Linked DNA regions of Homo sapiens. The protein of the gene in region 2 purifies or fractionates together with the protein of the main gene of each other region. This does not show direct contact. Each region holds a gene or a part of one and is shown on either strand. Other genes may lie near its edges. The genes, in order: MAP3K20, MKI67, OAS3, KNOP1, ARID3B, NFIC and DNM3.

Region 1 (3,923 bases), on a different chromosome or scaffold from region 2:
TTTCACCTTTCATAATCCCATATTGAAGACAGAAATAGAAGTTTATGGTTTTTTTCAGTAGAAGACAGCTCAAACAAATTAGATGATTGTCATAATTTATCCTTTTTTCTTTTTTTAGTTGTTATAGCTGCTGATGGAGTATTGAAGGTAGGACTATTTCTTTTACTTAAAAAAATTGTTAATTTCAGATGTAGATTTTTGTAACTGATAATCCCTTAATTAGCCAATAAGTAGAAAGTTGACACTGATTCCTGTTTTCTCAGATCTGTGACTTTGGTGCCTCTCGGTTCCATAACCATACAACACACATGTCCTTGGTTGGAACTTTCCCATGGATGGCTCCAGAAGTTATCCAGAGTCTCCCTGTGTCAGAAACTTGTGACACATATTCCTATGGTGTGGTGAGTTCATTTCTCATTTCTTGTTTACTAAGGGAAATACAAAAAGCAAACACTCAAAAGAAGAGAGATACAGTTTAACATGGTTTTATTTTTATTTGAGACTGTACTGCTGGTGGAATGCCTAAAGCAGCACCATTGGAGAACGCTTCCTAGTTGCCAAAATGTTTAATCATTTTTAATCATCGGAGTTATTTTGTCCTGTGTTGAGAAGAAACCAACACCACTTCCAAGAAACAAATTAAATGGAATCCGAGATAGTGTTGGGCTCCGCTTTGCCTGTGAGAATGATTTTTTGCAGGGTGGTAATGTGACTGTGGACTCTCTCTGTAATTTCAATGGAAATGTGGATCATTTGGAACAGGACTTCATTGTAATGGATTGCTTAAACAGTATAAAATCACCAATAGATCTGCCAAGCGAGTTAATTACCAGGAAACTTTTGAGTCTCAACTATTAAACTGATTCATCGGTTTCTAAAAGTCCAAAAGAAAATGTACTTAGCACTTACCAGATGACCTTGTCCATGTCTGCTGCCAGTCTTAGAGTAGCAGTGACTATCTGAAGCGTGACTCTAAGGCATTACATAAGAATCACAGCAGAGCCACATAGAGAATAGACTAATGAGGGGGTGGAGTGCTCAAGGAAGAGACCACAGGAATGAATCCGTTAAGGAGCAGAAGCTCCTGGAGGAGGAATTTGGAGATGGGCCATTTCCTGAGGAATAGGTTATACCTGCATTATCAGAGAGAAGGAAGTGGAGTGGGAGAGTTCTTTGCTGGAGGAAGGAATTCATTTGTTGCCTTTTGTTGAGGATAAACTTTTCCCTAAAATGTTACGTATTCTTTAAAAAGTCCAAAATAGTTTTGGAATTCCCTGTCTTTACATCTCATACTGCCCTGCTATTTATACTATTATACTGCCCTGCTGTTTATACTATTACTTCCTAAAAGGGCATTTTCATAGTAATGGGTAAAGAAGCAGCCTGTTTTAGGTCCAAATCAGCCTGTCTCTTCGTCCTGAACTTCTGTGTTTTCTTACTGCAGGTGGTAGCCAATGACACAAGAGGAGATTCACGTTGTCAGACCTGTTTTGTTTTGTTTTGTTTTCTTTATTCGGTCTCTAGGTATTTAATGCTGGCTTCACAGGTTTTGGACTTGTTTCAGTGACTAGCTTTTTGTAAATCATAACACATCCTATGTATACCAAATTAATAAAGATTAATTTTGTTAGCTATTGAAAAAATCATTTCAAGAATGAAATATGTTTTTGACCGAAGGCTAGAATTTTAAAGGTCAGAAGGCAAGAGTAACATCAGGCTTAATACCTGATATCCAAAAAAAGAAAAAAAATCAATACCTGATATCCCTTGATTCTGGTTTCTTAAGAATGAAGACTATAAGCTATTACAGTGATCAAATATTTCTCATAAGTTTCAGAGGAGACTAGCTTATAAAACTGGTCTCCTATGTCAAATGTTACTACATTCTAACCATCATACATTCATCTGTGGGATATTCTGAAAATGGGGTATTTGTAGCAATTTAAGACTCTTTGTAAGATTGTTTTCTCTTGTGAAAGTGCATTCCTTCATTTATAACCAAACGTTTATTTACTGAGGCACACACCACCTGAGAGTAATTTAAATTTTTCTTAGCCTGCTTGTTGGGAACGGCCTCTCGTTTTGTCCTGTTGAAATAGGAACAAGCAAACTTTTTCTAGAAAGGACCAGATAATATATATTTTTGGCTTTGAGGGCCACTTACAGTCTCTGTTGCATAGTCTTCATAGATGCCATAGTTGGCTTTTTGTTTCTTACAACCCATCAAACATGAAAAAGCCACTCTGTATTCTGCAGCAGGCCATCGTTGCGGGCACCTCCCTGGAACAAGAGGGCTTGGGAAGATGAGCAGCGTGGTTTAGGAACGTGGCTTGACCGTTCAGAGTGGCTCACCAGGAGCCCACTGCTCCCACTCCTTTAATGTGCATGTGTATATAAATGTATATAAACATGTTTGTTGGTGTTAGGTATATATGTATGTTGGTTATAGTTATTGTAGACTGTTACAGCTTTTAAATTGTTTGTCACATTTATATGAACTAGAAGACTTTTGAGGTTCATTTTTGCACTTATGAGTCCACACACATACAGTGCTTTTACTTTTAAAATTCTCCCCAAGTGTTTGAATTTCCTTATCTCAAAAATTTTTGACCTTAAGACACAACTATACATACATTGAACTTTTAGCCTCAACATTATTTCATATATGAAAACAAACTTTATGCTGCCTTCTTTCAAAGCCTTACAGTTGCCAGGGCTTTGGTGTGAAATGCCCCCCTCTGCTTTTCCTGAGATGAAGTACAATCTTAGTACCAGTAGCCAAGCACAAATTCCTTTTCACACATAAACTATAAAAGATGTTAAGAGTGACTTCTGTTTGGAGAGCTTAGGATTTTTTTCCTGTATCATTTTAAAATCTCTTCATACATTCCACATTGACCCCATTTCTTAAACATAGTTTGAGTCAACCTTTCTGGAGCTGCACATTTTCAGTGTTTTTTATTAAAAATCTTTTCACTTAAGAAACTATGCACCACATTTCAGTAGAAGGGCTTGAACACGTCTCTTTGTGGATTAGCTTTTCTCTCTACTTGTGTGCTGACCCTACCTTTGCTTAGTTTGGTTTGGTTTTGGAGGGATTTAACAAATGCTTAACAAACCATCCTATGGAGTAATTTCACTTACTGAAACAAACTCGACCACCAGCCACTGAGCATTTCCAGTGTTGCTCTGTATTTACACACTGGATGTTGCTCTGCAGAACCTGTCCACCCCATCATGTGATGTGGAATATCAATTCTGCATTCATGCTAGAGCCTTCCCTTACCTGGTGGAAACAGAAATGCCATTTCAGTGAGTGAGTCTATTTTAAAACAGCTTCTGCTGTGTGAGTCTTGAAGACAGAGGTTTGCTTGGAATGCTGGTTTGCCTCACAGAATGTTGTGTCAGCAGAATTCCATTCAGAAAAGTGTACAGATGCTAATTTAATTATAAACAAGAACTCAGGACTGTATAGGTTGATGCAAAAGTAATTGAAGTTTTGCCATTTAAAAGTAATGGCAAAAACTGCAATTACTTTTGCACCAACCTAATATTTAATTCTGACCTCTTCTCATTCTGTTTGTTCTAAATAAACACCATTAATGAGAGAAAAAATACGAGGTATGCTTTCCAGCGACTTTTTATTTAAACAACCACAGGTATTTTTTTAATGAAGAAAGCATTATGTGTTCAAAGTAGATGTTATAGAAAAGAGCAGGTGAGGATAGTTGTTAAGGTTGGGACCATGTTAGTTTTAGAAGTTTGTGGTCCATAAACTTGGAAAATGATACCTATTTTAATTCAAAATGTGGTTATTTTGAATTTTTTATGTCTTTTCAAAAATAGGTGAGTAGCCAAGACTCCTTTGTCAGTAGGAGCATTTATTTGCATTAAATATCCCATTGTTCATTGGGAGTCTGTTC
Region 2 (3,923 bases):
TCTAACAGTCCAGACAGTTTCCCCTTCTCAAGAATACACATTCCTTATTGATATTGTTCTGATAGTTAAAATAGTGACATAGATAGGATTTTTAACCCAGTCCTGGTCTTGGTGACAGTATCCAGAACATAGAACTGAACCACCCACCTATCCTCTGATCAATTTTTTAAACATTTGAAGATGAACATTACTCATTTGGCTTTTGAGAAACTCTTCTAAGTTTGCATTAATCATGTTTGACTAGTTCTTTTCCCATATTAGTCTATTCCCTCTATAGGTCCCAAGAAGATTCTTTACCATGGCCTGCAGTTATTCAGTGTTAAAGGAAACCCTCTGGGGAAAGGATAACCACTTATAACGTCAGGTTACATGCAAAGTATAACACAGAAATTCACAACTATCCAAGACGATATTGAGTGATGCTGTAATACTTCCTCTCACCTTATTTTCAGGGACCGAGTCTTGTAATTTGTGTTCCTCTTTGTTGGTTTTCATGTCGTTGCTGTTCAGCTCTTCCGCAGGTTCAATTCTTTTTGCAGAAGTCCTCAAACTTCTCTTCATGATGACCACGGGTTCGGATGATTTGCCTCTTGCCCTGGGAGCAACCCTCTGCTTCTTGCTGGCTGGCAGCTCCTCCACAATTTCCTCTGGTGCTGGCATGCAGCGCAGCCTCTTGGTTCCCGTGACGCTTCCATCTTTGCCACCTCCCCTCTTGAAGGGCAGTGGGGGCAGGGAAGTGTTGCTTTTGCTTTGTGATTTTACAGGGTCTCTGGTGCTTACCACGTCTCCCACGGGTTCTACTTTAGGGGCCCGAAGAACTCTTCTGGATATTTTTAGAGGTTTTCCACTGTCAGGTGTTTGCTTTGGAGCGCTTGTAAAGCTATCAGCAGCACCATTTGCCAGTTCCTCAGTGTGGCCTGGTGTTTGAGAGAGCTCTTGGAAGCTGGCCAGATCTTCCAGGGGTTGGGCCTTTTCCTTAGGTGCTCTTGGCTGTCTCCTGCTGCCAATTACATCTTCTGCGTCCAGCTTCCGCTTTGCAGGTTGCTTAAATGCTTTCGTGCCTTTGCCCTCACCTACCGGCTCTTTGTCGGTGTGCGTGGTCTCCCCTGAGGTTTGTGTGAGCTTGCCAACTGCTAACAGCTCCTCCTTCACTTCTACTTTCTGGGCACGTGTCCTGGGCCGTCTCTTTGAGCTTGTTGCGGTGTCTTCTAGTTCTGGTGATGATTTGCAGGGTATTTTAGTGGTTTTGTCATCAGTCATTGATTCTTCAGTGTGACCTGCTGCTGGGTCTTTGAAGCCAGCTAGGTCTTCTATGGCTTGGGCACTTTCCCTGGGTGCTCTTGGCCGTCTCCTGCTGCCAGTTACACTTGCTGCTGGAGCCGGTGTCTGTTTTGCAGATTCCTTCAATGCTTTGATGCCTTTATCTTCACCTGCTGGTTCTTTGTCTGCATCCGTGGTTTCCCCTGATGTTTGTGTGAACTTGACTGCTGAAGGCTCTTCTTTTACTTGTACCTTCTGCACACGTGTCCTGAGATGCCTCTTTGTGCTTGCTGTGGTGTCTACCACTTCTAGTGGGGGAGATTCGCAGGGTATTTTAGTGGCTTTGCCAGCAGTCAGTGATTCCTGAGTGTGACCTGATGTTTCAGAGAGCTCTGTGAAGCCGGCCAGGTCTTCCAGGGGTTGGGCCTTTTCCTTAGGTGCTCTTGGCCTTCTCCTGCTGGGTTCCTCTTCTACTGGGTTTGGTTTCTTCTTTGCACGTTGCTTCAATACTTTGATGCCCTCATCACCGCTTGCTGGTTCTTTGTGTGTGTGTGTGCTTTGCCCTGATGTTTGCGTGAGCCTCTCAACTGCTGAGAGCTCCTCTTTTACTTCTTTCCTGGGACGTGTCTTGGGGCATCTCTTTGTGCTCGTGGCAGTGTCTGTTAGTTCTGGTGGGGGAGATTTGCAGGGAATTTTTGTGTTTTTGTCAATAGTCATTGACTCTTCAGTGTGACCTGGTGCTGAGAAGAGCTCTTTGAAGTCAACCAGGTCTTCTAGAGCACGGGCCTTTTCCTTACGAGTTCTCAGCTGCCTCCTGCTACCAGTTACACTTGCTGCTGGGTCCAGGATCTGCTTTGGAGACTCCTTAAACGCTTTGATGCTCTTACTATCTCCTGTTGGCTCTGTGTGTGTTTGCGTAGTCTCCCCTGATGTCCGTGTGAGCTTGCTGACTGCTAGGGGCTCTTCTTTCATGTCCACTTTCACCAGGGGTATCTTGAGCCTTTGCTTGGAGCTTCTTGAGGTTTTGAATGACTCTGGCTGTGGAGATTTACAGGATACTTCTGTGATTTTGTCATCAGTCATTGATTCCTCAGTGTGACCTGGTGTCTGGAAGAGTTCTTTGAAGCCAACCAGGTCCTCTAGAGCCTCAGCCTTTTCCTTAGGAGTCTGTGGCTGTCTCTTGCTGCCAGGTAAATTTCCTAGCAGGTCCAGTTTCTGCACTGGAGTTTCCACAAATGTGTTGATATTTTTCTCATCACTTACTGCTGGTTTTGGTGTGTCCATGGCTTTGCCTGCTGATGGTGTTCGTTTCCTGAGTGCTAAAAATTCTTCCTCTACGTCTGCTTTCCTGAGGTTTCTCTTGGGCCGTTGCTTTGTGCTTGCTGGGGTGTCCACTGGGTCTGGTTGTGGAGATTTGCAGGCTATTTTGGTAGTTTTCTCATCAGTCGTGGGCTTGTCAGTGCCTGGTGTCTGGAAGAGCTCTTTGAAGCCAGCCAGGTCTTCTAGAGCCTGGGCCTTTTCCTTAGGAGTTTGTGGCCATCTTTTGCTGCCAGGTAAATTTCCTGGCAGGTCCAATTTCTGCACTGGAGTTCCCATAAATGCTTTCATGTCTTTCTCATCACCTCCTGCTGGTTTGGGTGTGTCCATAGCTTTCCCTACTGATGGTGTTCGTTTCCTGAGTGCTAAGGATTCTTCCTCTACGTCTGCTTTCCTGAGACTTCTCTTGGACTGTGGCTTGAAGATTGTTGGGGTACCCACTGGGTCTGGTTGTGGAGATCTGCAGGCTATTTTGGTAGTTTTCTCATGAGTCGTGGGCTTGTCAGTGCATATTGGTGTCTGGAAGAGCTCTTTCAAGCCAGCCAAGTCTTCTAGGGGTTGGGCTTTTCCCTTAGGAGTTCTTGGCTGCCTCTTGCTACCAGTTACACTTGCTGCTGGGTCCAGTTTCTGTTTTGCAGTTTCCCTGAACACGTTGATGCCTTTATCCTCATCTCCTGGTACTTTGTCTGTGTGTGTGGTCTGTGTGAGCTGCTTCAGGGCTGAGAGCTCTTCCACTATATCCCTTTTCCCCAAAGGTGTTTTGGGCCGCCTCCTTGTGCTTGTTGGAGTGTCCATTGATTCTGGTGGTGGAGATTTGCAGGCTATTTTGGTAGTTTTGTCATCAGTTGTTGATTCCTCAGTGTGGTCTGGTGTCTGGAAGAGCTCTTTGAAGCCGGCCAGGTCTTCTAGTGATTGGGCCTCTTCCTTAGGTGTTCTTGGCCACCTCTCCATCCCAGTTCCATAGTTTGCTGGGTCCAGCATCTGCTTTGCAGATTCCTTAAACGCTTTGATGCTCTTTCCATCTCCTGCTGTCTCTCTGTGTGTCTGTGTGGTCTTCCCTGACGTCTGTGTGAGCTTGCCGACTGGTAGGACCTCTTCTTTCACACCTACTTTCCCCAAGGATATCTTGAGTCGTTGCTTGGAGCTTGTTGGGGTTTTGACTGGGTCTGGTTGTGGAGATTTGCAGGATACTTCTGTGATTTTGTCATCGGTCATTGATTCCTCAGTGTGACCTGGTGTCTGGAAGAGCTCTTTGAAGCCAGCCAGATCTTCTAGAGCCTTGGCCTTTTCTTTAGGAGTTTGTGGCCGTCTCTTGCTGCCAGGTAAATTTCCTAGCAGGTCCAGTT
Region 3 (4,701 bases), on a different chromosome or scaffold from region 2:
ATTAGTATTTCAATCTGTAGACTGAGTAGAGAAGACAGCCCTCACCAGGGTGAGTGTGCATCTTCCAATCCACTGGAGGCCTGAATAGAACAAAAAGAGGAACAGCAAATTTTCTCTCCCTGCATGAGCTGAGGCATCTGTCGTCTGCACTCGAATATTGATGCTCCTGGTTCTTGGGCTTTCATACTTGGATTGGGACTTATTCCAGCAATCTCCTGGTTCTCAGCCTTCTGAATTGGTCTGAAACTACAACCACTGGATTTCCTGAGTCTCCAGCTTGCAGACGGTGGATCACAAAACTTCTCAGACTCCATAATCACACAAGTCAAACCCTCATAATAAATCTCTTTATATATCTCTTCCTCTATTCTAATGGTTTGGTTTTTCTGGAGAACTCTGATTAATACAGCACACAGATGCTCCTTGACTTATGATGGGGTCATCAATTGTGGATCGCCTTTTATACGTAAGAAAAATGAAAACATATGTCTGCACAAAATCTCATACAAGAGTGTCCATAGCAGCTATTAGTCATAATAGCAAAAAATGCAGCAAAATAGCAAAAAAGTGGAGAATATCCAAATACCTATCAATGGAAGAATGGATAAACAAAATGTAGTCAATTTATGCAGTGGAAATGTCTTTCGGAAATAAAAAGGAATGAAACCTCAACATATACTATAACATGAATGAATCTTGAAAACATGTTAAGTTAAAGAAGCCAGACACAAAAGGCCACATATTGTATGATGCCATTTATATGAAATGTTGGCAATAGATGAAATACACAGCAGATTGGTGGTTTCTAGGGATTAGGGAGAGAATGGGTTGGAGGAATGGGGAATGACTGCTAATGGGTTTCAGGGTTTCCTTTTAGGGTGATGAAAATGTCTGGAATTATTATGATGAATGCATCTGTGATATGGCTCTAGTTATGAATATGCTGGATATAAGTCTTATGAATAGACACCAAGTATAAATCTTATGAATATACTCACACCACTGAATTGTACACTTTAGAAGGGTGAGAGCTTTATGGTATTGACTTGTATCTCAATAAAAACTTTTTAAAAATTAAACACACACACACACACACACACACACACACACACCAATTTCTTTGCAGTCCTGCATTTCTTAGGATTCAGTTCTGGACTTGGTCTTCACTTTCTCTGCCTTCTGGCTGCAAGAAATGCAACCCTCTTTTACCACCAAGGAGGCCCTCTGGCTCTCTCACTTAGCTTTCAATTGCTGATTGATTGCATTTAGCTTTTTACTACTTTTTTCCCCAGAGTCTTGGAAAGAGCCACCTAACTGCATTGGTCTATTTACGTACCAGCGCCATGCTGTTTAAGTATCAGAGGCTTCATAGTATGTTTTAATATTGGCTAAGACTAGGCCCTGCTCAGAACTCTTCTTTCCCTGTGTTTTCCTAGCTATTGCGTGTGTATTTTTCCATAAGAACTTTAGCGTCAACTTACCTGGTTCCATCGAAAAGCATATGTGGGTGTTTTTAGGGTGACCATTAAGCCTATCAATCAACTCAGGGAGAACTGACATCTTTATGCAGTCAAGTCTTTCCATCCGAGGGTGTGGCTAGACCGGGAAGCCCCCAAAAGTTACAGTGGGGCCAATATGCCAACACCAGGGTGGCCATTGCCAAAGACTGAGGGCCTGGAATGAAATACACCCCTGTTCAGATGAGCAAGCCCTCCTCTCTGCCCTACCCAGATGACAACCTCTCCTTGTATCATGCACCTGAGTTGCTCTGGTTCCCACCATCTCATAATTACTCTAATTCTGGAGCCATTTTGCGGGGAGGCCCAGAGTCTGTGTGGTGGGAATGGAAGGTACCCAACTGCGACCTGCCACCTGGTCTTCCCAGGAGCATCACTGGCTTGTGATGCCCAGGCCAGGGCCACTCTGCTGCTGGACAACTTGGCAGAGCAGGTCTCTGCTGCCCACCAGAACTGGCCCTGAGCTCTTGGATATGTGTGTGGCAGCAGCCAGGGCCAATCCAAGAGGTGGAGTTTGGGGTCCTGAGAGTTCTAGCTTTGGATTACCAGGCAGTATCGATGAGGTGAGTCTAAGAAGGTGCCCTTAGCGTTGGTTCAGCACCAAGATGGGGGACAGGGATGGAGGCTGTCAATATGGCACAGGTATTAGAAGCCCTGTCCTCTGTCCCTTCACCTACTCTAGTCTCTGTAGGCTGAGCCAAAGACGGCAGAGAACAGGTTCTAGGTGAATCAGAGGAGCTTCCCTTGGTTGCTCACCTCTCTCCAAGAATGACAATAATGAGGGAAGGCTCTTCCCATCCCATTCAATCTAGCATTCCTAGCAGGTAAGTTTTAACAGTGGTTTGTGGAGAGTCAGGCTGTCTAAGGCACTCCTGTGGAGCAGAGAAGGGATGTTCAGTGGCTTCCTTTCTTTGTTTCCTGTTCCTTCCTCTGAGATAGACCCACTCCCTCATCCACGCAACAGATGGCCAGGATGCATCTGCTGGGGACTCCGCCCCCTGGCACTTGGCACCCATTCAATCATACATGTCTCAGACTCCTCTGCAGCCAGAGGTCTGGCTGTAATTTAGATTCTGCTAAGAAAGGGAGGTGGGATCCGTCTTCCCGCAGCTCTGGCAGCTGGCCATCCCTGATGGATGTTTGTGGTTGCAGGAATCTAACCTAGGTCTCGACTCCAGTTTTGTCCATGTGGGGCAGTGATGGCAGGGGTAGTGGTGGCATTAGCAGTAGCAGTGGCTGCTCTCTGGCCTCTGATTCGGCTACAGTGGTCTAATATTGAAACCAATAGTCCAGTGGTGGCCTCTGCCTTCTGCTCCTCCAGCCTTTCCAGTGATTTAGATAAAATCCCTTTCTGCCTAAGATTCCTAGAGTGCTTTCTGTTTTCTGGGCTGAACCTTGACTAGTGTGGACACTGTTGTTGGACTTGAGGTCAGGAGAGCCTCCTGGATGGACCTGGTGGGCCTTGCTCTAGAGGGCAGAGAGAAACAGGCTGAGCACGGTTGTTTGGCCACTGGCTCAGTTTAGGCTGTGGGGATGCAGAATCTCAGCATGTTAGGAGAGAAAACAGGGACCCAATAAAAATTCAGGAAGGCAAACTGAGCCACAGCATCAAGATGTGTAAACTAGGGGAGGAGTGCAGCATAAAAGGTGAAGAAAAGGAGGCCTCTCATGAAGAGGCATCCAATTAGGTGTCCAACAAGAGGGTCCCCATAGCATGCATGTCCCAACTCCCTCTGTCTGTGTCTGTGGCAGACAAAGTAAGCCAATATGGGCATGCTCTCCTGCTAGCAACCGAGCTCAGAGGGCTCTTCAATAGCCCACATATACACTGTAAACCTGCAAGCACCTTCTTTTTTCCGTATCCAGTGCAGACATTGCTAATCAATCATGGCACTTGTACCACCACTTTCCTCTACTGCATCCATGGCAGACATCACTAATTGATTAGATAATTCTTCTCAGCTAATTGGCCATTCTTTAAAACCCTTCAGAAGATAAGGCTCCAGGTAGCCAGTACCAAATGACTGTGGCTGACAGATGAGATGGGAACTCTCTGCCATCCCTATATAAACTATTTAGATTTGGCAAGGAGAGGCCAATGGGAGGAAGGGATGGATTGCAGCAGGAGGAAAGATGTGAGCTAATTTGCATGGGCAGAGAGGAGTCAGGGAGGAGGGGGCATTCTCAGCTGGGTGGGAAGCAGCAGTGGTGGTATGAGGATAGAGTCATGGAAGTGACAGAGAAGCTGCAAACGCAGGCTGGTGTCAAACCATGGAGTCTGGATCCTAGTGTGTAAGCCATGGGAGGCAGGGGAGTGTGTGAGCTGGGAGAGCAGATTCACTAAAACACACACATGCACACGTGTGCACACACATGCACACATGTGCTCACACACACATGTACACAATCTCTCTCATCTGGTAGGGGACCCTGAATTTCCTCATGCTGAGGGCTGGTGTCCATCTTCTCTTCATCCAGTAGGACCGCTGATTTTCTCAACTTCACACAGCAGCCTGGGGAAGTATTATAAGAGATGTTGGTAACCCCATTCTTTCTGCAGAAGCTGAGACCACACAGCCGGATGGGAAAATGGAAGCACAGGGGCATACCTGGGGCCATCACTGGGCCCTGCCCCTTTAGTGGGAATCATGTCCCTCCCCTGACCATGCTCCCCCCTTACCCCTAAAGGGTACTTCCTTTGGCACCACAGATCTCTCACCTTCACTGGCCATGGCTGGATGGGGATGCCATTCCGTCCCATGCAGCACAGGGCAGATGTGCAGGCTGCAGCTTCCTTGGCCAGCAGGTCCCAGCGGGCATTGTGGCCCAGGTTGCCTGTCGGGTCAGCCGGATCCAGGATGATAGGCCTGCAATTCCCACCCAGGGACAGTCTTATTCCTGGCAACATCTAGGTGTCCACCTGTGGCACTGGTTGGACTATTTTCCCCTTTTATCTAACACTTTGCAGGGGCTAGAGCCAGGGCTCAGAGATTCCTCAGTGCTCCTATACACTACAGGGCAGGTATAGAAAATAAGACACACATGGCCACTTTGCCATTCTGCATTCAGGCAAACATTACTAATCAACCACGGTGCTACCGCTTACCCCTTCCTTATTCAGGGGAGGCATTGTTAATCAATCACAACACTGGTTCCACAACTCTCCCCTCCTGCATCCATGATA
Region 4 (3,818 bases), on a different chromosome or scaffold from region 2:
AGGCAGGCCAACGTCAGGGTGACCTCTTGGCAAGATAAAAACTATGAGTAGTAAACGGCCGATTCCAGCTACTCAGGAGACTGAGGCACAAGAATCGCTTGAACCCAGGAAGCAGAGGTTACAATGAGCCGAGATCACGCCACCACACTCCAGCCTGCGCGACCGTGAGACTCCATCTCAAAAAAAAAGAAACGAACGGCTGGTTCCTGTTTACACCAGGCACATTCCTGTAGTGTTGCTCAAGGTCAGGAGGGATTTGTTTCTCCATCAAAGGAGGAGGTGCCCAGAAGGCACTCACTCAAATCCAGAACACTGCCTCTTGGGCTTTCCACGGCCTCTCCCATTATGTATCTCAAGGTTGAATCCAGGAAAGAAAGGCAGGACAAGTTCACGTCCTGAGGGAAGTGGCCCAAGTAGGTCCTTGTAGCACATACTTGTCCAACTATTGACCTGGCCAATGCTTGCGGATCAGGGTTCAGAGCCAGGGAAACTGCCTGAAGTGCCTGCCTCACCTCTGCCCAATGGGCAGCTGTGGACACCATGGCCACTTCACCAGCATCCACTCTTCTTGACTGAAGGGAATCACCAGCCTTCCCATGACAGGGGCGGGTGCAGCTATGGGCAGATGACTCATTGCCCAGCAATGGAGGCTTCTGGAAGTTTCCTTGAGACACAAAAAGGCTTTTCTTCCTCTGGAATGTTCTAGGGTCTTGATATGCTGCCTGGAACTGTTACTGCCATCTTTGTACTAGCCTTGATGAAGCCAACACTGGAGATGATGGAGAGAATGCTTCCTTGGCGAGCTGTTGAACCAGGCCCTAATCAGGCCTTCCTGCCACGTGAGACTGAACTTTCTGGCCATCGAGGCCTGCCTGGGCTGGGATGTCTGTAGGAGGCATGTTCAGGCCAAACGATCGTGAAAATGTCCCAGTCAGAACCTGTATTTTGGGATGCAAAAAGCTAGGTGAGTGGAAAGAAGGTGGTCACAGATGGTCACATGCGACTTGGGCCACTGGACCTGGAGCTCTTTGAGGCTTGCTGTAGAGTCCAGGCTTGGAAACGCTGTCCCCACAGCCGATGAGGCAACTTCCCGTGTCATCTCCACACGTTCATCTCCTCCTGGCATTCAATATCCACCTACAGAAGTCACCTGGGATTCTCTTCCTTGTGATAAAAAAGAATCTCATCAGACACATCCCTGGGGCTGGGCACAGTGGCTCACACCTGTGATCCCAGCTCTTGGGGGCTGAGGCAGGAGCATGAGTTGAGTCCAGGAGTTTGGGACTAGCCTGGACAATATAGTGAGACCCCATCTCTACAAAAAATTTTAAACACTAGCTGGTTGTTGTGGTGCACACCCACAGTCCCAGCTACTTGGGAGGCTGAGGTGGGAGGATCACTTAAGCTGGATAGGTAGTGGTTGCAACAAGCCGTGATATGCCACTACACTCCAGCCTGGGTGACAGAGTGAGAGCCTATCTCAAAACACACACACACGTCCCTGGGATCTGCCATTGATTCATTTGCGGGACTAACCACTCTTCCTAAAATGCCTTGTTCAGAATCCAGTCAAAGCACAAAAATCCTACCTCAGCACTTAGGGCCGAAGGGACACCAGTGGAAAAGGCAGGACTGGTTTAGAGGCACATTTCCCAGCAGCAGCAGCTCAGTCACATGTGTTTGGTAACAACTCAGACACCTCTCTGCCTACAGCTGCTCTATGACAGGGGAAAGGAAAAGGAAGGAAAAGGAGTTTGCGATTCTCCGTTCCTCATTCACTCCACTTTTTATCAGAGATGCAGACTTGTCATAAAACTTTTTCCTCCATCTAAAGACATTTCAATCCCCAACGAGGATTCTGGTGGAAATTCCCTAAAGGGGACATTCAGAGTGGCGAATAGTGAACTTAGGGCTTCGGGTACAAAAGTACAACACCCTGCACTTAGTGGCTGGGTGACCCCAGGCAATTTTATTACTTTATCCCTGAACCTCAGTTGCCTCATCTATAAGATGGGGCTAATAATAGCACCCATTTCATAATTATGAAGATTAAATACATTAAGGAAAACACTAGTATGTCCCTAGTACCTGCTAAACACTCAACAAAAGTTAACTGTACATACTGATGTCTCAAACAGGGACGGAATGTTTAACACAGAAAACAGGAGGTTTTAGCACTCACTCGTTCTCCTGGCTCCCGAAATATGAGCTGCCCTGCCCCAGTTCATCCAAGCCCATCAATATAGTTGTCCTCGTCCTTAATCTCCACAGGTGTTCAATGTGAGCCAACTGTCAGATGGCTTTCATTTGCACAACTGAATAAACCATTTATGCCTAGTGTTCCATTACTGGAACGCTAAGCTTATGGGAGTTATTTATATCTTACTGCTCGAGGTCCTCACCAAGATCTGATTTTTTCACAAAAAAAATTTGTAATCTCCAGCATAAATGGAATAATCAAAGCAATTGTGGCAGTTTTGGGGGGACAAAACTCTAGAGTTTAATCTTCCAGCTTGACTGACTTGGAAGCGTTCCTGTCAATGTAAAAGATCTTGTTGGGGGCGGTGGAGAAGCCGAGGCCGGCTCCCCGGCTGTACTTCCAGCTCATGGCCCGGTCGTAGTCCCGCTGCAGATTCTGCTGCAGGCTGTCAGCCGCCTTCTTGCCGAGGGCCATGTTGGGCCTTGCAATCGTGCTGGCGGGGCGGCTGAACGAAGGGGACAGGTTTTTGAAGCCACCCATAAGTCTGAGAAATTTCAGTTTTTGGTCCTCGTTCTCAAAACCAGCAGTATCCCACTGGCCAAACTGGGTTCCCTGTGAGGAGAGGAAAAAGGTGGCTATTTTCCTTGAGTTCAAAGCCCTTTCCTTCCCTTGACCCCCACCCTCATCAGGGAGGGCCCAGCAGATTAGATGGCTGCTGTGTACCAGGCACAGTGCTAATAAGCTCAACAACGGATTATTCCGTTAATCCTAAAGACAGCCCTATGAGAAACACTGTTGTTATTCCCATTGCACAGAGGAGAAAATAGAGGTCTGCAGCTTAGCTGGAGACAGAAACCTAACTAGTGACCCCCAGAATTCCAGCCCAGGTCCAGCCAACACCACTGCCCACCTCTGCACAGAGCTGCCTTTCTGCCTTCCTCCTCCTTTCCTAACTCATGGCACACGGCACAGTGTGCCTCACTTCACAACAGCGCACTCCCCCCACCACCCTACACTAAGCATTTCCCCCCACCTCCCTACACAGTGCACCTCCCCTCCCCCACCTCCCTACACAGCACACTCCCCCACCACTCTACAGAGCACACTCCCCCCACGACCCTACACAGAGCACTCCCCCCACCTCCCTACACGGCGCACATGGCGCACCTCCTCCCACCACGCTACACAGCACACTCTCCCCCTACCATCCTACAAAGCGCACCTCCCCTAACCACGCTACACAGTGCACTCCCCCCACCACCCTACACATCGCACTCCCCCCACCTCCCTACACAGCACACTCCCCCACCTCCCTACATAGCACTTCCCCCACTCCCTATACAGCGCACCTCCCCCCACCTCCCTACACAGCGCACCTCACCCCACCATGCATCTCACAAGACAGCACACCTCCCCCACCTCCCCACAGGGCGCACCTCCCCTGCAACACAGGGCACCCCACAGCCCAGCAGCCGGGCGCACTCACCCAGCAGCCTAACGTTTGGGTGAATTGGAGGGTGGGAGAGGGCGAGTGGGAATCTGAAGTGTGCTTCTCAGAAGCACTGTTTTATGGCGGGAACGGGTGCGGGCCCACAGGGGTAAAAGGTCACACAGCCAA
Region 5 (3,923 bases), on a different chromosome or scaffold from region 2:
CCAAGATGACACTAATTGAACCCTCTCATTCAATAGATAAGGAAACTGTGGCCACCAGAGTGGGGAGGATGTGCTCAAGATCAGGAGAACGAAGGGATGTTAGCCCTGGCTTTGCACTGCCAGTCCAGAGCTCTTTCCACCCCCACAGGGCACTGCGCCTCGTCCCACTCCAATCTTCTCAGGCTTCTTTATGCGCAGGTTGCTCTGCTGCTCAGGGAGGGGAGGGGGTCGCCAAGGTGCAAGTCACCCCGGTCTTGCCTAGAAACCAAGGTGCTGAGGGCTGAAAGGCCCATCTGTTGCAGTCAATTCACCCAAACATGTTAACAAGCAAGAGATACAGCACAAAGCAGCAGTTATGGCCCGTCCCTGTCTCCCACTGGACAGCCATTTTATCACCTGCAGCTGCGGTCATTCGGGGCGGCCTGCTGTGTGCTGCATCCCTCAGAGCTGTCTGCTTCCTCTGTGGGCACAGCCTGCTGTGTCAAAGCTGCTGGCCCCTCTCACAGCCCACCTGGGTGTCTCCGGGCCTTTCAAACTCAGGCTATTTTCTTTCGTTTCTTTCTTTCTTTCTTCCTTGCATTTCCCTTTCCCTTTCCTTCTTTCTTTTGTTTTTTGAGACAAGGTCTCACTCTGTTGCCCAGGTTGTAGTGCAATGGCATGAACTCAGCTCACTGTAGCCTTGACCTTCCAAGCTCAAGTGATCCTCCCACCTCAGCCTCCAAAGTAGCTGAGACCACAGGCGCATGCCACCACACTCAGCTAATTAAAAAAAAATGTTTTTTTTGTAGAGACAGGGTCTCACTATGTTGTCCAGGCTAACTCAGGCTATTTCCAGTGACTCCTGTGATATCTACTGCTTACCTTTCATATTAGCTATGGAGGCCAAGTCCCTGACCTGCTGCTGAGGTCTATGAGGCTTTTCCTTGGTCCCAACTAGCAAGATCTGCCTCCTGTGTCCCCCAGACACTCCACAAGTGACAAGTCACAAATGTCTAAGGGCCCTTGTTCTCACCATTCTGTTAAGAACAAAGACAGCCGGGCTCGGTGGCTCATGCCTGTAATCCTAACACTTTAGGAGGCCGACGCGGGCGGATTACCTGAGGTTGGGAGCTCAAAACCAGCCTGGCCAACATGGTGAAATCCTGTCTCTACTAAAAATACAAAAAATTAGCCAGGTGCAATGGTACATGCCTGTAATCCCAGCTACTTGGGAGGCTGAGGCAGGAGAATAGCTTGAACCCAGGAGGTGGAGGTTGCAGTGAGCCGAGATGGTGCCACTACACTCCAGCCTGGGCTACAGAGGGAGACTTTGCTTAAAACAAAAAAAACAAAAAAAAACAAAAAAAAGACAGGCCAGGTGCGGTGGCTCATGTCTGTAATTCCAGTACTTTGGGAGTCGGAGGCAGGCGGATCACTCGAGGCCAGGAGTTTGAGACCAGCCTGGCCAACATGGTGAAACTGTTTTTACTAAAAAATATAAAAATTAGCCAGGCATGGTGGTGCATGGCTGTAATCTCAGCTACTTGGGAGGCTGAGGCACGAGAATCACTTGAACCCGGGATGGGAAGGTTGCGGTAAGCTGAGATCGACCACTGAACTCCAGACTGGGACTCTGTCTCAAAAAAAGGAACAAAGACAGCAAGCCTCACATGATTAAAACTGTAATCTGAGGCCCAGCACGGTGTGGTGGTTCATGCCTGTAATCCCAGCACTTTGGGAGGCTCAGGCAGTTGGATCACTTGAGCCCAGGAATTTGCTACCAGCCTGGGCAACATAAGGGCCTCGTCTCCACACACACACACACAAAAAAACAGAAAAATTAGCTGAGTGTGGTGGTGCACACCTGTAGGCCCAGATTCTCAGGAGGCTGAGGTGGGAGGATCACCTGAGCCTGGGGAGGTCAAGGGTGCGATGAGCCATGATTGCGCCACTACACTCCAGCTTGGGCAATAGAGTGAGACCCTGTCTCAAAAATAAATAAAATAATTAATTAAAATAAAAGTGCAATCTGCTCCCACCCCTCTTTTAAAATTTTCTTCTTCTTTTTTATTTCTGAGATGGAGTTTCGCTCGTCACCCAGGCTGGAGTGCAATGGTGCGATCTTGGCTCACTGCAACCTCCGCCTCCCGGGTTCAAGTGATTCTCCTGACTCAGCCTCCTGGGTAGCTGGGATTACATCTTCTTTTTTTTTTTTTTAAATTACAGGGATGGGGTCTTGTTACGTTGCCCAGGCTGATCTCAAACTCATGGTCTCAAGTGATCCTCCCACCTAGGCCTCCCAAAGTGCTGGAATTATAGGCATGAGCCACCATGCCCCACTCCCAACCCTCCTGAACCACTCACTCTAGTTCGGACTACCAGATAAGAGTTTTCTAGAAAGGAGATCGCTGGGAATAACAACCTCTACACTATCTTCCTGCCTCAGTCTCTCCTCTCTAGCCCAACTATACACTGCCACGGCAAGTTTCCTGAAAGCCAATATTTTGCCTTCAATAACTCAGCTATATCTACAGACTGAAGCGCTTTTTGGGCAAACATGGCTCTTCAGAGTCTCATGCCAGCTGACCCATCCAGGATGGCCCCTGGCTCTGGGCCATCAACAAGGGTTCTTCCAGCTACACCAGGGCCACATGTGTCACAGCATTTTTTCCTCCACCTCCATGGTTGGGTCTGATACACTAGAGCCACAGCTCTTCTCAGAGCCTTTCTCTGCACTGCAGGCCAGGGTGAGGCCCCAGCACTCACTCCTTTGGCACTCAGTCACAGGAAACAATGCTACCTAACACGGCTTGCTCTCATGTACCTGACTGGAGGTAAGATGATTTTCATAAAAAGTTTTTTTTTTTTTGAGACAGGGTCTCACTTTTTGGCCAGGCTGGAGGGCAGTGGCGCAATGTTGGCCTCCATGACGGCCCCCAAGTCCCCGGCTCGAGCAATTTGCCCACCTCAGCCTCCCAAGTAGCTTGGGACTACAGGCATGCATCACTATGCCTGGCTAATTTTGTTTTCATTTTTTGTAGAGAGAAGGTCTCACTATGTTACTGAGACTCACCTGAGCCTCCCACCTCAGCCTCCCACAGTGGTGGGATTACAGGCGTGAGCCACCACACTCAGCTAAGAGTTTTTCTTGCAGAGGATATTTTACATCTTTATTCTCTTTCTCATCTTTCCATGCCAGAGGGTCTCAACGGGACAATTTTGCCCTCCAGGGGACATTTATGACATCTAGAGACATTTTTGGTTGTTGTGACTGAGGGGCTGATATTGGTATCTAGTGGATAGAGGCCATGGATACTGCTAAACGTCCTACAGTAACCAGGTGCGGTGGCTCATACCTGTAATCCCAGCACTCTGAAAAGCCGAGGTGGGAGGATCACTTGAGGTCAGGAGTTCAATACCAGCCTGGGCAACATAGTGAGACCTCATTTCTACAGAACAAAAAAGTTAGCCAGGCATGGTGGTGCCTACCTATAGTCCCAGCTACTCAGGAGGCTGAAACAGGAGAAAGGCTTCAGCTCAGCACTTTGAGGCTGTAGTGAGCTATGATCGCACCACTGCACTCCAGCTGAGGCAACAGAGTGAGACCCTGTCTCAAAATTAAAAACAAAATCCTACAGTGCACAGGACAGTCTCCACAACAAGGACTACCCATCCCAAAGTCAACAGTGCTGAGGCTGAGAAACCTTTTATTAAAGTAACAAGTGGCAGACAGAACCGTTTCCCTTCTGTTGGTAATGCCAGCAAACAGTGAAATACCTGACGTAAGTGCTGAAGACAGGACAAAGATTTACTCAGGACCTGAAGAATCATAAAGTGACATTATCAAAGGGAGTCACTCACTCCTGCTTTGGGTTCACTCAGAAATATACTAGATGGCAATCTGGCAGTCCCAGTTGCCACAGAACAGCAGGATATGCAGCAAA
Region 6 (3,923 bases), on a different chromosome or scaffold from region 2:
GCTGGGCTGGTGACCTGTGTGGGTCTGCGTCTGGCGTACACCCATCCCACATGCTCTGGCAGCCCCTGGGTGTGTGGGGGTTCACGCGTGCTCCAGACACGGCCTGGATGGGCATGGCAGGGGTGTGCTGTGCACCCACTCAGGTCTTGGGATGCAGCTGACACCTCGCACGTGGCTACACGCATGATCTTCTGGAACCTCCCATAGCCCCATCCAGCTACAGACTGATCATCTCCACCATTTGGCAGGCAAGAGAAACTGAAGTCCAAGAGGGCCACGCAGCCAAGAAGCTGCAGGACCAACCCTGCTCTTAGCACCGGGACCAGAGGCACAGGCATCAGGCCTCTCATCTCCACGCTCCTGCCAGGACCCCTGGGGCATCTCCTTGTTCACTGTGGCCTGGCCATCCTGCAGAGCTGAGCTCAGCTGCACCTCCTCCTCTGGGAAGCCGCCTTGGATTTCCTCAACCCCACAGAGCTAGCTGGTCTCAACATCAGGCATTTGACCACCGGCAAACACCCCTCTGGCAGGGCCAGGCTCATCAGGCCTCTGCTGGCATGGTCTGAGAGTCAATCAACCAACAAGCATTCACAGAAAGCGGTGCCAGGACTCTCTTGGCTCTCCTCGGAGGGCTGGGATGGCCTGTCCCTCTCCTCTCCTCACCCCTGCTCCCAGCAAGGCCGTCCGTTGTGCCCAAGACCATCTAGGACATTCTCATCCCCCTGAGACCTCAAGGGCCTTCCTGCCTCCTCCCTCAGACGTGAGGGTGAGATCCTGCCTCTACCATTGGAGCGCCACAGCCCACCTGCCTCCTCTGTCAAAAAAACCTCCTTGTACCATCTCTCACTTGAGACCTCTGCTAGGCCTGCCTCCTCCATCTGACCTCCACATCCCATCAGCAGCCACCCTGGGCCCTGCATGCACTGGCCTCCTCCCTCAGACGCTCCTTGCACCATATCACTTGCATTAGACGCTCTCCTAGGCCTGCCTCCCCCCTCAGACCACCACATCACATCTACACATGCTGGCTTCTTCCCTCAGACCCTCCTTGCCCCGTGTCACCCGGCGTCAGACGCTCTCCCAGGCCCGCCTCCCCGCTTGGACCACCACATCACATCTACACGCACCAGCCTCCTCCCTCAGACCCTCCTTGCACCATGTCACCCCCATCAGATGCTCTCCCAGGCCTGCTGCCCTGCCTGGACCACCACATCACATCTATATGCACTGGCCTCCTCTCTCAGACTCTCCTTGTGCCATATCACCTACTTTACATATTCTCCTAGACTCGCCTCCCCTCTCAGACCACCACATCACATCTATACCCACCAGCCTCCTCCCTCAGATGCTCCGTGCCCCGTGTCGCCCCCATTGGGCACTCTCCAAGGCCCACTTCCCCTCTCAGACCACCACATCATACCCACACGCACTGGCCTCCTCCCTCAGGCCCTCCTGGCCCCGTGTCACCACCATCAGACACCCTCCCCGCTGGCCGCTCCGCTCAGGCCACCACACCTCACCTCGCTCACGCACGAAGTAGGCCAGGTAGAGGTCCAGCTCCTTGACGGCCACGCCAATGTGGTGCGGCTGCACGCACAGGACCGGGTGACCGCACTGCGCAGCCTTGACCAGGCGCTCGCCGTCGGTGCTCTCCAGCGGGATGCCCTTGAACAGGATGACCATGACCAGGTCCAGCCGCCACACCTTGTCCGCCTGCCGGAGACAGTCGATGCGCCGCATCTTGCCCTTCTGGTCGGGGTTGGAGAGCACGCAGCCCGGCGCCTTCTTGCCGGTGATGCTCAGCACGAAGTCCTCGCGGCACTCGGGCCGGATGTCCTTGCGCAGCTTGGCCAGCAGCCGCGACGCCCACTTCTGCTTGACCTCGGGCTTCTCGCCCAGCAGCTCGTCCTTGACCGCACGCTCCTCGTCCTTCGACATCCGCTTCTCGTGCTTCTTGAAGTACTTGCGCTTCCGCGCCTGCAGGTTGAACCAGGTGTAGGCGAAGGCGCGGACGTGAGGCAGCAGGGCCTCGATGAACGGGTGGAACTCATCCTGCAGGCCGGAGAGGCGAGAGGTCAGGAGCGCCAGGGACGCAGAGGGCGGACCCACTGCCCGGCCCCGAAGGCTGAGGTCGGAGGGGCCCTGAACAGACCCGCAGAGTGGGAGGGGCTGGGCAGAGGTGGGCAGGGGGTCGCTGCGGACCCGTGCACGCCGCCGGAGGCACGCAAAAGGCCCGGGGGACCCAGGAGAAGTTTATCAGGGACCTGCAAGAACCCATCGCCCAGATGAGCAAACAGACTTGGACTATGTGAGAGGCACAAATCAAGGCGGAAGTTTGTGGAGGATCATTTTTTTTTTTTTTTTTTTTGAGACGGAGTCTTGCTCTTAACGCTAAGGCTGGAGTGCAGTGGCGCAATCTCGGCCCACTGCAACCTCCACCTCCCGGGTTCAAGCGATTCTCCTGCCTCAGCCTCCCGAGTAGCTAGGATTACAGATGCCCACCACCACGCCCAGCTAATTTTTGTATTTTTAGGAAAGATGGGGTTTCACCATGTTGGCCAGGATGGTCTCGATCTCCTGACCTCTGATCCGCCCGCCTCGGCTCTCGGCCTCCCCAAGTGCTGGGATGACAGGTGTGAGCCACCATGCCCAGCCGTGGAGGACCTATGTTGAACCCCAGCATGCAGATGGAGCAAGCTAAGGGGGCCAGGTGGAGGCTCATGGACAACCCATTGTACAGACGGGTAAAACTGAGGTTGGGAGAACAAAGATGTCAGGGACCTATTCTCTGCCTATTGCAGCTAGGGTTGGGCTGGGTGTAATGGCTCACACTTGTAATCCCAGCGCTTCGGGAGGCCGAGGAGGGAGGACTGCTTGAGCCCAGAAGTTTGAGACCAGTCTGAGCCATATGGTAAAACCCCATCGCTACAAAACAAATGAACAAACAAAATCAAAAAAACAAAAATTAGCCAGGTATGGTGGTTTGCAACTGTAGTCCCAGCTAGTTGGGAGGCTGGGGTGGGAGGATCATTTGAGCCCAGGAGTTTAATGCTGCAGTGAGCTGTGATGGTGCCACTGCACTCCAGCCTGGGCGACAGAGCAAGACTGTCACAAAAAAAAAAAAAAAAAAAAAAAGCCTGGGCGCAGTGGCTCACACCTGTAATCCCAGCACTTTGGGAGACCGAAGCAGGTGGATCACCTGAGGTTAGGAGCTTGAGACCAGCCCGGCCAACATGGCAAAACCCCGTCCCTACTAAAAATACAAAAAAATGTAGCCAGGCATATTGGAGCACACCTGTAATCCCAGCTACTCAGGAGGCTGAGACAGGAGAATCGCTTGAACCTGGGAGGCAGAGGTTGCAGTGAGCTCAGATTGTGCCACTGCACTCCAGCCTGGGAGCCTGGGTGCCAAGAGTGAAACACTGTCTCAAAAAAAAAAAAAAAAAAAAAAAAAGAACAAGGCTGGGCACGGTGGCTCACGCTTGTAATCCCAGCACTTTGGGAGGCCAAGGCGGGCAGATCACGAGGTCAGGAGATTGAGACCATCCTGGCTAACACAGTGAAACCCCGTCTCTACTGAAAAAAAAACAAAAAAATTAGCCGGGCGTGGTGTCGGGCGCCTGTAGTCCCAGCTACTCAGGAGGCTGAGGCAGGAGATTGGCATGAACCCGGGAGGCGGAGCTTGCAGTGAGCCGAGATTGCGCCACTGCACTCCAGCCTGGGCGACAGAGCAAGACTCCATCTCAAAAAACAAAACAAAACAAAAAAAAACTAGGGTCGGCGGCCAAGCATGGTGGCTCACACCTGTAATCCCAGCACTTTGGGAGGCCACAGTGGGTGGACTGCTTGAGCCCAGGAGTTCAAGACCAGCCTGGATGACATAGCGAGGCCCCGTTTCTACAAAATCAAAACTTAGCTAGGTG
Region 7 (3,923 bases), on a different chromosome or scaffold from region 2:
TGCGGTACGCATTTTTAGTCTTCTTCCCTATTCCCCAGCACACAACTACTAAAGTCCTTGGAATCTTCAAAGTGATAAGTATCTTTTTGCAGGCTAATGGGTTGGTAAGTGGCTGGCAGCTCCTGGATAGCTTCAGCAAGTGGACTGGTCACTAGAAAGAACAGATATGACCTCCTAGGAGGGATGAGGGGCTGAAGTTTAAGTTGATCACCAATAGCTAATGATTTAATCAATCATGCCTACATAATGAAGCTTCCATAAAAATCCAAAATGGGCTGGGTTTGGAGAGCTTCTGGATAGCTGGAGATGCAGAGGTTTCTAGAGGATGGTGTGCCCGGAGAGAACATGGAAGCTCCACATCGCTTCTCATACATTGCCCTATGCATCTCTTCATCTGTATCCCTTGTAATATTCTTTATAACAAAGAACTGTTTCTCCGAGTTTTGTGAGCCCCTCTAGCAAATTAATAGAACACAAGAAGAAGGTTGTAGAAACCCCAATTTATAGCCAGTCAGTCAGAGCACAGGGTAAACAACCTGGATCTTGTAACTGGCATCAGAAGTGGGGGTCATCTTGTGGGACTGAACCCTCAATCAGTGTGATCTGATGCTATTTCCAGGTAAATAGTATCAGAATAAAATTTAATCAGAGGATACCTAGCTGATGTCTGCTGCAGAAAAGAATTAATTGCTTGTTTGCAGTAGGGAGAAATCACCACACATCTGGAGTCAGAAGCGTGTTTGAGAATATAGTAGGAGAAGCTGAGTTTGTTTTTTCTACGTGGACTACGTGTGGACTCCTCAGGAATGTGACTGGGCTGAACTCACTAGAATTCACTGATGGTATGACTCTCTCTGTCCCAATCAGACAACCATGGCTCAATCTCCTATGGGAAAGAAGGCTGTAAGACAGGAATGGTTCAGCACCATTTTTATAACTAGATTCCAGTCCCAGTTTATAATCTGACTCTTCCAAGCCACTGACGCTGTAAAGGGAGTCCTGGTGATGGTCCTTACTTGTCATCTGGAGCCTCTACCTGCTTGTTACAAGCCCCAGTTTCAGGGATGGTGGAGGAAACCAAGAAGAAAAAAACAGTTACCATTGCAGAATTCTGGAAAGGCCTAAGAATTGGAGAACCAATGCTAGGGTATAGGAAGAGCTGAAAATAAAAGAATTGGCTGAAGGCTCCTAGAGGACACACCCACATAGCTACCCTTCCTCAACCTCAGCAGAGTACTGAAGACTTGCTTCAAAAGAGGTTGAACCAGAGGGACTCTGGACTCCAGAAGAATTTCAGGAATGCCATCATGAAAGCAGAGGAATTAATTAAAAGTGTACACACTGAATAGTGAGAACCATCCTCCTCCCACTCCATCCCCTGACCCACCAATTCTTGGCTCCAAGAACACTAGACATCAGGCTTATACCAGACCAGCTCAGGAGAAAATACTCATAGAACCTAACAGTTGAGGAAGTCTCCTAACAAAATGGTCAACTCTCAGCACAGTTACTCCATGGGAAAACCCACTGGTCAATGAATCCCTGTCATGTACATAAATCAGCTTTTTGGTGCTCCACTCTCATGCACGAACAAGCGGCAAAAGATCGACAAACATTTGAAAAAGGTCTCTAACATCAAAGACAGAGACAAAAACAAACAATCAGAAAACAATAGATTCAGACAATGTAGATTACAAAAGAAAACCTTCAAAAAGCTCTCACTAAAGTCCTTGGAGGAAGATATTGTATTTATGAAAACAAGAACATGATGCTATTTTAAAAAATAAAAATAAGATTCACAAAGTAAAAATATGCTTTTGGAACCTCTAAAATGAATCAGAAGAGCAGAAGATAAAGTTGATAAAATCTTGCAGAAAGTAGAACAAAAAGACAAAGAAATGATTATAGAAGAGAAAGATTGAAATAAAGGATTCATTTAGGAGTTCTAACATGCTAATAAGAACTACAGATAAAAAGAACAAAGAAATTGGGACAATTAATTATCAAAAAAGAAAAATTCCTAGAACTGAAGAACATGTATCTCCATATTGAAAGGGCACATCATTGAATGCCCTTCCACAATCACTTTAAACAGACACACACCAAGGCCAGCACTGAGGTCTCTGAAGATAAACTGTCGTTATTCAACTTAGAGAAGTAAAAAGTTTAAACATACGCATAAGAAAGGACCTTTTCTGGATATTGAGATGACAATACCAAATAAATCCCTGCTTATACGTACATTTTTTCTCAAATAATTATAAGCTAAATAATATCTTACATGCATTAGAGCTTCCTATTTTAAAGAAACAAGACAAAGTAAAAAACACAAAGGTTTTTCACTGGAAGCATATGCAGGTAACTCATAATAATTAGTAGATTGTCTGAATTCTGCTGTACCAGAAGTTTATTTTACCAACTTTTTAAAATATGCAGCCCATGAGGCTTAGAAATGCCTGTTTTCTTAGATCTCATTATTCTTAGATTTATATAGATTTTGACTATATAAATTTCATTATTTTAGTAAATCTTTACTAAAATTATTTATTATTTTTTAATATTAAATACTGAATTTTCTATTTAAAATACAAAAGGTTTAACAACATTAATAATGGCTAATTTATTTATAATGAAACCAAATCTTAAGAATTTATGTTACCTTTAAAGATACCAAAACTCCTGACACTTTAATTCCTTCTCATCTTAGTAGTCACACACTCACCTTGAGGATCAACTTCTTTAGCTAGCTTCAGCGCATCTGAGTTTGCAAGATCAGTGTTGGCTGGAGTAACAGCTAAAATCAGACAGTTCTCCCTCGTGATGAACTGCATAATCATTTCTCTGATCTGATACTCGATATCTGGTGGCTGATCTCCCACAGGCACTTTAGTTATTCCAGGTAGATCAATAAGGGTTAGATTTAACACTGTGTGGAAAGGATAAAGGAGTCTTACATACACCTTCAATGCTAAAAGATAACAATACAGAATCATTTGTCACTTAGCTCAGCCTTCTACTTTGTGTATCTGAACAACTCCAACCCATGTGTGTAGAATAAAGAGCATAAAATAAAAATGGTTTTGCTAGTTTTCTCTATTTTTATGATATGATTGTGCTATGCCAAATGATCACTTTAACATAATTTGAAAGGCACTGATTTGCATGCCTAACAGTTTGCTCAGAAAGCTGTCATATCTGTAACTAGGGGGTTATAATTAAAACACCAAATGAGAAATGCATATGCTATCTGCCAGTCTTATACATTGCCTTCAAGTGGTATAAAAACTCACAGGGTAAGACTGCCCTTTCCTTAAAAAGTATCATTTTTTTTTTTTAATAGAAAGTTAACCACTTAGCCTAGTAGAAAGCTGTTAGCCATTCGTGGTGCCCTGGGTTTACTGAATCAGCTGTACAAACAGAGTCAGTGACAACATGACTCTAGCCCAACCTCTCCATATAAACAATGTTGGCACCAAGTACCCTTGGGAAGTCATAATTGAGCTTATGTCATTTATATTCTGTTTTAAAAGCAATAGAGCTAAGTAGGGAATAAGAAATGAAAATTTGCCCACTAAAAATTTAGTCAGCATACAGGTTATTTCCCATCACACATTATGGATTGGTTATCTAATTTATAAGTTTCTACCGATAGTCTGGGGGAAAAAGTCAGAGCTGATTTCTCAGGAAGAAAATAAATAGGACTATATATGGCTGCAAGACATCCAATAGGGGAAGATGCAACCATAGTAACATGTACCTCTAAGATTTCAGCAAAGACTGAAAAATGGAAGTTTTCATATATACCCTTCTCAAATTCTAAAAGCTTATAATAAAAATGAAGAAAAAATTTGATGACTAACTCAATTCTGTTTTTATTAAAGTCATCTCCTACTGCCTCTCCTTAAATGTCTTAAGAGCTCTTT

What was found.
Region 1: the proteins of MKI67 (region 2) and MAP3K20 purify together in Homo sapiens (affinity purification with mass spectrometry; one large-scale study listed by BioGRID and IntAct). This does not show direct contact.
Region 3: the proteins of MKI67 (region 2) and OAS3 purify together in Homo sapiens (affinity purification with mass spectrometry; one large-scale study listed by BioGRID and IntAct). This does not show direct contact.
Region 4: the proteins of MKI67 (region 2) and KNOP1 purify together in Homo sapiens (affinity purification with mass spectrometry; one large-scale study listed by BioGRID and IntAct). This does not show direct contact.
Region 5: the proteins of MKI67 (region 2) and ARID3B purify together in Homo sapiens (affinity purification with mass spectrometry; one large-scale study listed by BioGRID and IntAct). This does not show direct contact.
Region 6: the proteins of MKI67 (region 2) and NFIC purify together in Homo sapiens (affinity purification with mass spectrometry; 2 studies listed by BioGRID and IntAct, with this or other methods). This does not show direct contact.
Region 7: the proteins of MKI67 (region 2) and DNM3 purify together in Homo sapiens (affinity purification with mass spectrometry; one large-scale study listed by BioGRID and IntAct). This does not show direct contact.

The regions. Positions count from the first base shown.
Region 1 is NC_000002.12:173,190,777-173,194,699, forward strand, and holds part of MAP3K20 (mitogen-activated protein kinase kinase kinase 20), read left to right. Parts: intron 1-118; coding exon 119-147; intron 148-263; coding exon 264-401; intron 402-3,923. UniProt on the Homo sapiens protein: Stress-activated component of a protein kinase signal transduction cascade that promotes programmed cell death in response to various stress, such as ribosomal stress, osmotic shock and ionizing radiation.
Region 2 is NC_000010.11:128,102,138-128,106,060, forward strand, and holds part of MKI67 (proliferation marker protein Ki-67), read right to left. Parts: coding exon 442-3,923; intron 1-441. UniProt on the Homo sapiens protein: Protein that associates with the surface of mitotic chromosomes and acts both as a chromosome repellent during early mitosis and chromosome attractant during late mitosis.
Region 3 is NC_000012.12:112,969,291-112,973,991, reverse strand, and holds the end of OAS3 (2'-5'-oligoadenylate synthase 3), read right to left. Parts: intron 4,385-4,701; coding exon 4,237-4,384; intron 4,031-4,236; coding exon 4,019-4,030; 3' UTR 741-4,018; downstream 1-740.
Region 4 is NC_000016.10:19,704,410-19,708,227, forward strand, and holds part of KNOP1 (lysine-rich nucleolar protein 1), read right to left. Parts: intron 2,813-3,818; coding exon 2,501-2,812; 3' UTR 1-2,500.
Region 5 is NC_000015.10:74,575,585-74,579,507, reverse strand, and holds part of ARID3B (AT-rich interactive domain-containing protein 3B), read right to left. Parts: intron 1-3,923. UniProt on the Homo sapiens protein: Transcription factor which may be involved in neuroblastoma growth and malignant transformation. Favors nuclear targeting of ARID3A.
Region 6 is NC_000019.10:3,379,841-3,383,763, reverse strand, and holds part of NFIC (nuclear factor 1 C-type), read right to left. Parts: intron 2,053-3,923; coding exon 1,521-2,052; intron 1-1,520.
Region 7 is NC_000001.11:171,987,948-171,991,870, reverse strand, and holds part of DNM3 (dynamin-3), read right to left. Parts: intron 2,927-3,923; coding exon 2,723-2,926; intron 1-2,722. UniProt on the Homo sapiens protein: Microtubule-associated force-producing protein involved in producing microtubule bundles and able to bind and hydrolyze GTP. Most probably involved in vesicular trafficking processes, in particular endocytosis.